2 separate regions of the Homo sapiens genome follow, and region 1 is linked to region 2. A link means that fine-mapping ties the variant in region 2 to the expression of a gene that starts in the linked region. Tissue or cell type: unexposed skin. Region 2 holds a variant in brackets; the other region holds the start of a gene. All regions are shown on one strand. Distances are from middle to middle.

Region 1 (5,374 bases), 63 kb before region 2:
GGCTCAGTTATGAATTTGTTATTGACTTAACCTCATCTTTTATGGGAGGCATGCAAATAGCCCCTGCACCTTATCTTAAATTGTAATACTTGACAGTCTGAAGCTCCCATCAAAATAGAAGTCTTTTCATGTATCTGAGGATCCAAACTGTCATTCTGGGAATCTGAACTTTTGATTAATTGCACAATAATAAATTCTCACATCTTCTTTCCACATTCCTTGACTCGTCTTCTTTTTATGTTTATCTAGTGAGCCTTTTTATTTTAAATACTGTCAAAATGTTTTTATCATGTTTCTTAAGTTGCAAGGAGCATAAAGGAGCAGCAAGACTTCCTAAGTATGAAGACTTTCACAATGGTAAAACGAAACCAAACAAAAATCTCACCCACAAACATACATGGAATGCTTGTGTGCCAGGCATTGTGCTGAGAGCTTTACACTCTTCATTCGCTTATTCATCATTTATTCATGCTGCCAACACAGATTGAGAGCCTGTGATATGACAGACACACTTCCAGGATTCAAAACTAGGATGCTTAGTCCCTGCTCTTGTTTAGTAAGATAACAGTAAACAAGTAAACAGAATGTAAATGCGATCATTTTTGGCAGTGATAAATGTAATGAATGAACAAAACAGGAAGAGACTGAGGGAGAACAGCGACTTTGGAAAAGGTGCTCAGAGATAAAGGGCAAGATTGTTTCCTGGTTAGTTGGGATGGGAGTAGGACAGGAAGAATACACGTGAGTTTGGTGTGTTGGGCATGGCAGGGCTAACACATGGGCAGGAGGAGGCTTTGCAGTGCCCAGCTCCCATTTGGAGATATTCTGATCCAAGCAATTCCCTTTCCTTGGGCTTTTTCTCCTTTCCAGAGCCTGCTGGACTGGTTACTTACTCCAACTCACTGCTGAGCATTTATCTATTCACGGATGTACAGGGGTCCTACTGGGCACTGCCACGTTTCCATATGCTATTTCCTATAATTCCTCACAAAACCCATCAACCAGTGAACAGCCTTTTCCCCTGGGGTTCTTGTCATGAACTCTTCCCGTTTAATATTAAGTTCCCATGCTAGAGTCTGTTTCTGGACAAAGAATTCTGTTGCACTGAGAGTTTATTTTTGTACCGATCCCACACTGTTTTAATGATTTCAGTCTTACAGTTTAACTTCCTCTGGAAACTCCTCCCTTCTTGATTTGGAGACCTCTTTTGAGGTTCTCCCCTTTGATAGTCATTCTATAGGGTGGTGGTTCTCTGACCCTTCCCCTGCCCCAGCCCATACATTCCTACTCCCTTCCCTTCCTTCTTCCCTTCCCTGTCTCCTATGCTCTCCTTGGCCAACTTCTCCAGGCAAATCCAGAGCTGGTGTTCTTGCAGGTCTGATTCCTCTTTTCTTATACACTAGGGATAGATCCTCGGCCTTGTTCACAGGGTCTCCCCTCACCCCATGTCTCTCACCCCAGCTGACAGACATGAGGTGAGAGAGTGGGAAGGAAAGGAGGCCACAGATGCCATGGGGCAGCAGGAATGGAGGCTTCCCCGATGGCGGTGGGCATGGAAGAAGTGCAGGATGCTCCTGTCCTTTGTCAGTGTCTTACAAGATCTAGCCTTTGCCTGTGGCCTACTCTCATTAAGCTCAAGCCACCCTTCCCCTCCGCACCCGCTGTTCTGCTGTTTGGAGGGCTCTCTGGACATTTACATAGTTGCTCCCAGCTTGTCATTAGGGTCTCACCTCGAAGCATCACCTCCACAATAAGGCCTTCCACGACCAGCCGGTTTAGAGTGACTCCCCCAGTCACTATAGCGCAGCACTCTAATTTGTTACCACATACTATTTACCAATATCGGAAATTCTACTGTTAAAATTTGTCTTTTCATTGTCTTCCACCGGCTAGGACGGAGGTCTTAGGAGTGCAGAGACCTCATATCTTCAGGACAGAGATCACTACCCTTTGCCAGGGAAGCTCACGAGGGGTTACAGATTGGTTGATTGAATTGAAATTTGGACCAGAGAGGGAATGACTGGCTTGGGTGCAAGTCGGGAGCAAAGCAGGAATCAAAGATTCTGACTGCATTTCTTCAGTCCTTTGCCCACCCAGACAGGTGAAGGTGCTATTCAAAGATTGGGGGAGGAGAGGGCCGCGGCATCCACCATGAACCACGAACTAGAGGGAAGAGGGAAGAGGGAAGAGGGAAGAGGGAGTCACGAGCTTCGCTACCACAGAGCAGGTGCGTTCGCGGTGCGCCCGGCCTTGACCAACCCGACAACTTGGCTTTTACCTCTGAAGCCGAGGAGCAGGGGTAGGGGGTGAGGGAAATTCACAAAGCTGCAACCACAGAGCCAATGTTTGGTGGGCGACAACCCCCCAGTCCCTCCTCCCTTCCTCTTCTTCCCCCAACTGCCCGCCGTCACGCCCCATCCAGGGGAAGCCCCAACGCCCACGGGAGCTCCAGGAGCCGGGCTCTGCAGCCGCCTGGCGCACTGCCTGGTTGCAACGGGGGCGGCGGTAGCCCAGGCGATCCTGGGTCCCCAGACAATCAGCGGTGGGGGTCGGCGGGAAGAGGCGGGGCGCCGCCGCCCGGGCCTCCCGCCGCGACGGGGCGGGACAATGGGGCCCCACCCCGGGGAAGGAGGGAGGGAGGGACGCGGCGTGCTCTCGGCCCGCGGCGCGCTCGCTGCTGCTGCTGCTGACAGGCTGAGGCTGGAACGGGCGGGGAGGGGCGCGGGTGGGAGCGCGGAGGAGGGAGGAGGCGGCGGCGGCGGCGCGTGTGGCTGGCGGGCGGGAGGGCGGCTGGCACCGGGCTTGTAAATAAACTGCGATGCTGTCTTGGGCTCGCCGGCCTGGGTGCCGCCGCCGCCGCCGCCGCCCCGGAGCGCCGGTTCCAGGCTCCCGCCGCCGCGCGCCCTAGCGCCTCCGCGCCAGCCTCGCGCGCCCTCCCAGCTTCTCCGCAGCCCCCGGCCCGCGACCCTCGGGGTCCTGCGGCTGACCCGCGCGGGATGTGACCCCCTGACCCCCTGCCTGGCCTCCCCTGCCCCCCAGGGGGCCCGCCTTTGCCTGCTTTTGGGGGGGGGTGGGGAGGGGCGCGCGGATCATGGCATTGGAGTTCCCGGGCTTGCAGCCGCCGCCGCCGCCTCGTTCACGCACCCCGAGCGCCCCTTCTTCCCAGAGCAGCAGCGGAGAAGGCGAAGCGGCCGGCGGGGGCGAGGCAGATGGGGCTCAAGGCGCGCAGGGCGGCGGGGGCGGCTGGCGGCGGCGGCGACGGGGGCGGCGGAGGCGGCGGGGCGGCTAACCCAGCCGGAGGGGACGCGGCGGCGGCCGGCGACGAGGAGCGGAAAGTGGGGCTGGCGCCCGGCGACGTGGAGCAAGTCACCTTGGCGCTCGGGGCCGGAGCCGACAAAGACGGGACCCTGCTGCTGGAGGGCGGCGGCCGCGACGAGGGGCAGCGGAGGACCCCGCAGGGCATCGGGCTCCTGGCCAAGACCCCGCTGAGCCGCCCAGTCAAGAGAAACAACGCCAAGTACCGGCGCATCCAAACTTTGATCTACGACGCCCTGGAGAGACCGCGGGGCTGGGCGCTGCTTTACCACGCGTTGGTGTGAGTACCCGGCCGCTCGGGGCGCCCTCGGCGGCGGCGCGCTTGGGGACTTGGGGTCGGGGCTGGAGCTGAGAAGTCTCTGGGGCTTTAAGACCCATGGATGCTTTCCCGCTGAAGGGGAGACCAGCCCGTCCTCAGCACGCGTTTCCCTGGGTGTGTGTGTGTGTGTGTGTGTGTGTGTGTGTGTGTGTGTGTGTTGCCGCTCTCCGGGTGTTCCACACTAGGGGCTTAAAAAACGAAGCGTGGTTCCCCTGCTGATTTGGGCGGATGTGTGCGCGCGCGGGTGCACATTTATGACATCTTCTAGGGGTGTTGGTTTGGAAGCTTAAAATAATTATGTGGGTTTTTCCAATTAATGTGAGGGTTGAAGAGGATAAAGCGGGTCCTCCCGTGAGCTCTGTGTTTCTGTTTCGGGTGGATCCCTTCTGTTGGGATCGCCACTGAGTTTAGTTGGGGATGGGAGGGGTGCGCACCACCCATAGTGGGGAGCGTGTGTGTGTGTGTGTGTGTGTGTGTGTCGCTTGCTTGTGCCACCCTTCTGATCGCTGGGTACTGGTACAGAGAAGAACCTGGTGCTGCTCTGACTGGGAGCTGGGACTGGCCAAAATGCATGTTCTAGGATTCCTTTTAGGGAAGTGAATGGGAACGTGTGTGTCTAAGCCTAGACTGAGGGGCTGGGGCTTCACAGAGCCAGGAGGTGAGGGGGCCGGGGACTCTTTTGGCTGAAACATCTCCTTGATTTGGGATCCGATATTCCCTCAGCCTCAGTCGCTGCTGCTTCTCCTGCTTTGGCTGGCCTAGGGCACCGGGAATGTGAGGGGCTTGGCCTGGAGGTTTGCACCCAGGCACTGTTCTCCTAGAAAGAATCTCCTTGCTAGTCCGATGTAAATGCATGGCCAGAAGGAAGAAGGAACTCCCTCTGCACCTGCCACTGGGGATGGAAAATCCACCCGTATTTGGGAGGGGGGAGAGGATGGTGGGGGTGCTCCTCATTCAAGATTGGAAATCTGTGCTGTCAGCACCCATCTCGGAGCTGGCAGGGCACGTCCAGCCATCAAGCTCTGCCTTCTGGCTCTGGTTTAGTCATCCTGATGGCTGCTTCTAGGAAGCTGTACTGTACCAGGGTTTTGGCAGGGAATTGCCTATGACCTTGGCAACCCCCCCTCCCCCCTCTCTCCCCCACGCGTTTAGCAGTGGATTTTCCTCTCTATTCTCCTCCAATTCACCCATGACTGATGTGGTCGGAAGGGCTCAGGAGCCTTGGAGTTAGTTACACTACCTGCCAGTTTTTCTTGGTTAGAGACGTTTTTCTAGGTTCGGCCACCAGGTGGGGGCGTCCACACAGGACCTCAGACTTAGCAACAGGTTTCTTCAAGGAGGTTACCAAGCCCGGAGAGGGTGCCTTCCCGGAAACTAAGGAACCAGCAGGAAGGGTGGGGTGGGAGTGGGGCATTTTCCCAGAAACGTGGATGTTGGTGTCTGTATGAGTGTGCGTGTGTATGTGTGTGTGTGTGTGTCTATTTGCAGGTGTTGGTCGGGGTCTGGTTGGAGAGACGGCTTAACAATTGTTGCTCTTTCATTTGCTCTTTTTAGGTGGCCGAAAAAAAAGCATTAAAATACATTCCTCTCTCTGTCTCTAGCAATATGTTTAGTTAAATTGAAGTGAATACTGAAATATGTGATAGTTAAAAAAGGCACAAGAAGTTCGTTGAGTGCACACAGTCATACAATGATTCACGTGTCCTTTCACATGCACATCGCGTTCAGTACGTACTGACT
Region 2 (5,374 bases):
GCAGATGTCGCCAGGCTGGTCTTCTGGCTGTGGCAGCCCAGAAGGTGGATGGACCCTCATCATCTGTGTCCATGACACTGCAGTGATGTTTTCTAAGGCACATCGGGACTTACCCACCCAAATATTCCTTCCCTTGGGTGGGCAACCTGTTATGGACTGAATGCATCCCTCCAAAATTCATATGTTGAAGTCCTAACTCCAAGTGTGATAGTATTAGGAGGTGGGGCTTTGGGGAGGTGATTAGGTCATGGGGGAGAATCTTCAAGAATGGGATTAGTGCTCTCTTGTACAAGAGACCCCAGAGCCCTCTCCCATCTCCCATGTTCTGCCCACCATATGAGACCACAAGGAGAAGGTGTCAGTCTGCACCCCAGAAGAGGGCCCTGACCAGAACCCAGCAATGCTGGCACCCTGATCTTGGACTTCCAGTATCCAGAACTGTGAGAAATAAATTTCTGTTGTTTATAAGCTACTCACTCTCTGGTACTTTGTTATAACAGCCCAAACTGACTGAGACAGTACCCATGTATTCCAACGTGGGAGTGCTGTTCGTTTTATCCTTTAAGAGATGACATGTTGACATGTTTGGAAGAATGCAGGTTTTCCGGTAAGACAGTACTGGGCTCAATTACAGGACTTATCAGTTGTTGTTACTGATGCTGAATATCTGTGTTGCCTTGGAAAGTCACTTCGGGATTTTTGAGCCTCAGTTTTCTCATCTCTAAAATGGGCTAATAATATTGACCATCAAAGATTTGTTTTGAGGTACAACACCTAGAATAGCACCTGTATCTACTGGCTACATAGAAAACAGTTCTCATTTTTCTGATCTACAGAGAGCACTCTCTGAGGGCACAGGCAGCTTCAGTGGTGGAGATGGGTGTGGCTGTCCATTGTCTTTTCTCTGGCCCCCATGATGGTTTTCTTGGAAAGCATTTTAAGGCTAAGAAAGGCTCTGTCTGGTCTCAGGAATCAGGACTCAGGCACTGGATGTTTTTTGTGTGAATTTTCCATCAGTGTATTAACAATGGTAAGACAGAGGGAGATAATGCTCTTAAAAGCAGTATTAAATGAAAAATGTTGCATTTATTATTGCATTTTACTAGGGTGGCTCTATCTTCAATGATGCCCGTGACCTGCAAATCCAGAAATCCAGACAAATGGTCTAATAGTTTTCAAAGTTTTTACAGCTGAAAATTGAGAGGATGAAAGGTGCTGTGGTTAAGCCAAGGTGAGAGAACACTGTTGTTCAGCAGGGAGCCTGGCAGTGGAAGGAATTTCTGCCTTCTTCAAAGAGTGCTGCCATGCCTTAGTTCCCGAAGTATTAGGCTTTTGGACTGGAAGGCATTGTATTGACCTTTTTAGATGGATCTCTTCTCAGTGATGTTGCCTCGCTTTTCTCATGCTTCTCCCATGTGCTGGAGATCACTTACATCTTTGTGTATCTTATGGTAGGTGCTGTAATGCCCATTTTACAGATGAGAAAACTGAGGCTTAGAAATTGACTTGCTTTACGTCACATGGCTTTTAAAGATTGAATTAGGACTTGCACAGAAGTCTGACCACAATGCTGCCTGCTGCTTTTCCTCACCTTTCTCTGTGCCCACACCCCAACACCACTTACAACTATCTACTTTTTATTTTTATGTTTTTAAATTTATTTAATTTATTTTTTGAGACATAGTCTCATTCTGTTGCCCAAACTGGAGTCCGGTGGCATGGTCTCGGCTCACTGCACCCTCTGCTTCTCCAGCTCAAGTGATTCTCTGGCCTCAGCCTCCCAAGTAGCTGGGACTACAGGCACGCACCACCACACCTGGCTAATTTTTATATTTTTAGTAGAGACGATGTTTCATCATGTTGTCCAGGCAGGTCTTGAACTCCTGGTCTCAAGTGATCCACCTGCCTTGGCCTCCCAAAATGCTGGGATTACAGGTGTGAACCACTGTGCCCGGCCATCTACTTTTTAAATTTAGCAATTGAGGAGGGTGAAACCCGAGTGGGGAATAAATGACTTACCCCTAGTCACAGAGACCATTAGAGGCAGAGTCGGGTTGAGACCCAGAGCTCCTCCCTCCCTCGCCTGCTTTTTTCTGCTCTCCTGCCAGCCTTCCGTGAGCACGCCTCATTAAACCCACACAGAGCCACGGATGTTTCCTCAGCTCTGTCACAGATCCCTTCTTGCTGGCTGCCAGTTAATGCCGCTCCTCTTCAGAAAGCCTATG[G/A]TCTGAGTTTATATTTATCTTGTCCTCAGGCTTCAAAGTAATTGTTTCCTCCTTGTTTTCGTGTGGGTCACTCAGTGTGGGTAATATGTTCTTACTCAGAAAAAAACCAGCACTGCCTTCTTATTCCCAATCACAGTGCCAGCATGCTAAGTGTCGTGTCCCTGATCCAATCCCGGTGATCTCAGGAAATCTCCTCTGGAAGATGAGGGGGGTGTGGCTCGGTGGAGAAATATTCCCCTCAACTAGAGCCAGGAGTGCTTTTGCACCACGGACCTTGGGTGGATTGAAGCCATCCTCACTCTGCTGCCCTCTGGCTGGCTCATGGGTCTCCAGACCTGCATCCTCTCAACTCCAAGGCCAACAGAAAGAGAACGTTTTTTTCCTGTTGTTGTCCACAGAGGTTCCAGAACTAGGTTCTGAATGACTGGCTTGGCATATATTCCGGGAGCACTCCCATTGCTTGGACTCCATTAGGAAGGAAGTCTGTTTTGTTCACGGACATATCCTTCTTATTCAGTGCCATGCCTGGAATGAATGAATGAATGAATGAATGAATGGATGGATGGATGGGTTTGCCCAGGTCTGAGTCAGATGACCGTCTTGCTGCTAAGTGGTCAAGTCCCCAGCACATAGAGTGTGTATGTCACCAGAACAGAGACTATATGCAGATTAGGTTTCCAAAAAAAAGTAGATGTCTCCCATGGCTGTCCATGTGCTGGGTGTTTTCTGTTTGCCTCTCCAAATCTATTCTCCACCCATGGGAGACTCAACTTGTAAATTTCACCAGTGGCCTCCTTGCCTCTGAGTTCTGATTGGATGCAGACAATAGGAGGAACCAGCAGGAGATGGGTGGGTCAGAGTCAGGAGGAGAGGACTTGGTCCCCTCCCTGTTGGGCTGTTGTGGGCCACAGCTCCTCCAAGAGCCATCAGTTTTCCTGGTTTCTGACAACTGGTCTCTCCCCTGGCCTCCTTAGTTGGAGAGATGGTAACAGTTCTCTGTTATTGCCAATCCCAGGGGCTTCACCCTCCCTTGTTGATTTCCCTAAACCTTTCCTCACCTTTGTAAATAGTCTCTATACGGGATGTTGCCCACTTTCAATGTTTGCATGAGTGTATGGGATCAGACTCGTACAGCCTGTCAGGTTAAACGAGGATTAGATTTGTTCTGCTCAGTTTCTTTGGGCAGAAGGAGGACCCAATAATGGTGGTGGCTACTTGGACATAAGTTTCTCCCTAGAGAACTGTTAGCTCCTCCACCCTTCAGGCTCCCTCAGACGTGTCCCCTTGCACATGTTAGCCCTTCTGTTTAGATTGTTTATCTGTCTGCTCCAACAGGGAACACCTGCCCTGCCTTTCAGTTTCAGTTCAGAGGGACACCCTTCACAAAGCCTACTGCACTTACCCAGCCTTCCTGTCTGTACCCTGCAGCCTTCCGAGCTCACCTTTTCTCAGCGTGGACCCAGCCCTGGGCACCACCTTCCTCTAGACTGGAAACCCCTTGAGGGCAGGTTTTGTATCTAATTCCTCTCTGTGGCTTCAGTGCCCCATGCCTAGTACCTACTGGATGTATACACCTCTTGAGTAAATGTATGAATTTTTTTTGTTTGTTTGTTTGAGATGGAGTCTCACTCTGTCACGCAGGCTGGAGTGCAGTTGTACGATCTCAGCTCACACTGCAGCCTCTGCCTCCCAGGTTCAAATGATTCTCCTGCCTCAGCCTCCTGAGTAGCTGGGATTATGGGTGCCCGCCATCATGTCTGGCTAATTTTTAGTAGAGATGAGGTTTCACCATGTTGGCCAAGCTGGTCTCAAACTCCTGACCTCAGGTGATCCACCCGCCTCAGCCTCCCAAAGTGCTAGGATTACAGGTATGAGCCACTGTGCCCGACTGAATTTATGAATTATTAAGCTCTGTTAAGTTTGGAATTCCAAAGAGAAGATAAGTTTTTGAATTCCAAAGAGGAAGTCCAGTTTGGGATTTTGAGAGATGGTGTTTAGAGAAATACCGTCTTAGCAATGAATATTTATAGAACTTAATTTCATTTTTAGAAAAGGAAAATTATTTTTTGCTTACAAACATCAAAATAAAAACAACAACAACAAACGTGAGTGCCTCAAGACAAACATCTCATTCCCACACATGGAAGGTGTCTTCTGGTAGAACCTCTAGCACCAGGTCTGAGTCCTATTTCAGTGCCACCACTGTGGCCTGGGGTGAGTCATATGACCTCCCTGAACCTCTGGTTATTCTTTGGAGAAATGAAGGCATAGCTGGGAGGTGCCTACCAGATGGGCTCTCATGCACATGAGTAGTATGGACCAGTGTTTCTCAATATTTTGTTCATGATTATTGCCATGGTGAGTGTTTTTAGATCTTTTCTTCCTAATCCCATGAAATTTTCATGCCAGAGATATGCTGCATATGTACTGTGGCCTGTTGAAGGGCCGAAAATCATGGCAATAGCTAAGATAGCTTTTGCTCCCTAAGTAGCTTTTTTTTTTGTCCCGTTGAGAATGCACAGTTACGATGATTTATCTCTCTCTGATGGCCATCAAAAGAACTGTCCATACCATGTACAGCACCAGAGCCTGGGGCTGCTCTTGAGACATTCGTAGTCAGAGAACAGACAGAAATGGAATCCCATCTGAGCCTGTGGTCTGCAGAGCAGCCTGGGTCCCTGAGCACTGTCACTGCAGAGACATGAGTCACAAGGCTGAATGTCACTGCTGTTTGGTTCTGCAGCCGGGGGCTGGGCCCTGGAAATCCAGAGGTGGGTGACTTGGCTCCTGCAGTCAGAGAGCTCCCAGACTCATGGGGTGGTGATGGTGGTGACATTCTAAGCACCATGTTAGAGGAAATGCCAGGGCAAGAGACACCTCACTGTCCAGCCTGGTGGTGACACTCCTCTGGTGTCATTGCACTGGAGCTGACTGGAGTAGAGGTTCCTGAATCCTTATGCCTGCTACACTCAGGCTGACAAAGACATCAGGCTGAGGAGCAGACCTGGGAGGAAACGCAGGCTGCAGGAGTAGAAATGAAAGACAAGAGAGAAGTACCCTGGAGTGGAGGTTGAGGCAGTAGATGGTTCAGAGGGAGGCTGAGAGTCAGCCCAGGAGGCTGCCAGCCATAGTTTTCCACACCTGTGCTA

The links. PIP is the estimated chance that this variant, and not a neighbour inherited with it, causes the effect.
Region 1: KCNQ3 starts here. The variant in region 2 is the best candidate, but not a certain one, in a credible set for the expression of KCNQ3 in unexposed skin (GTEx, PIP 0.80).

The regions. Positions count from the first base shown.
Region 1 is chr8:132,478,368-132,483,741 of GRCh38, reverse strand. KCNQ3 (potassium voltage-gated channel subfamily Q member 3) reads left to right here and starts at 2,647. Exons shown (of 15, transcript NM_004519.4): 1 at 2,647-3,595. The coding sequence starts at 3,210.
Region 2 is chr8:132,415,087-132,420,460 of GRCh38, reverse strand. All of the region lies in intron 1 of KCNQ3 (potassium voltage-gated channel subfamily Q member 3), which reads left to right. Among named protein-coding and RNA genes, the nearest start is that of KCNQ3, 63 kb to the left of the region's middle. RefSeq lists an enhancer at 4,819-5,374. The variant G/A (reference allele first, on the strand shown) is at 2,226.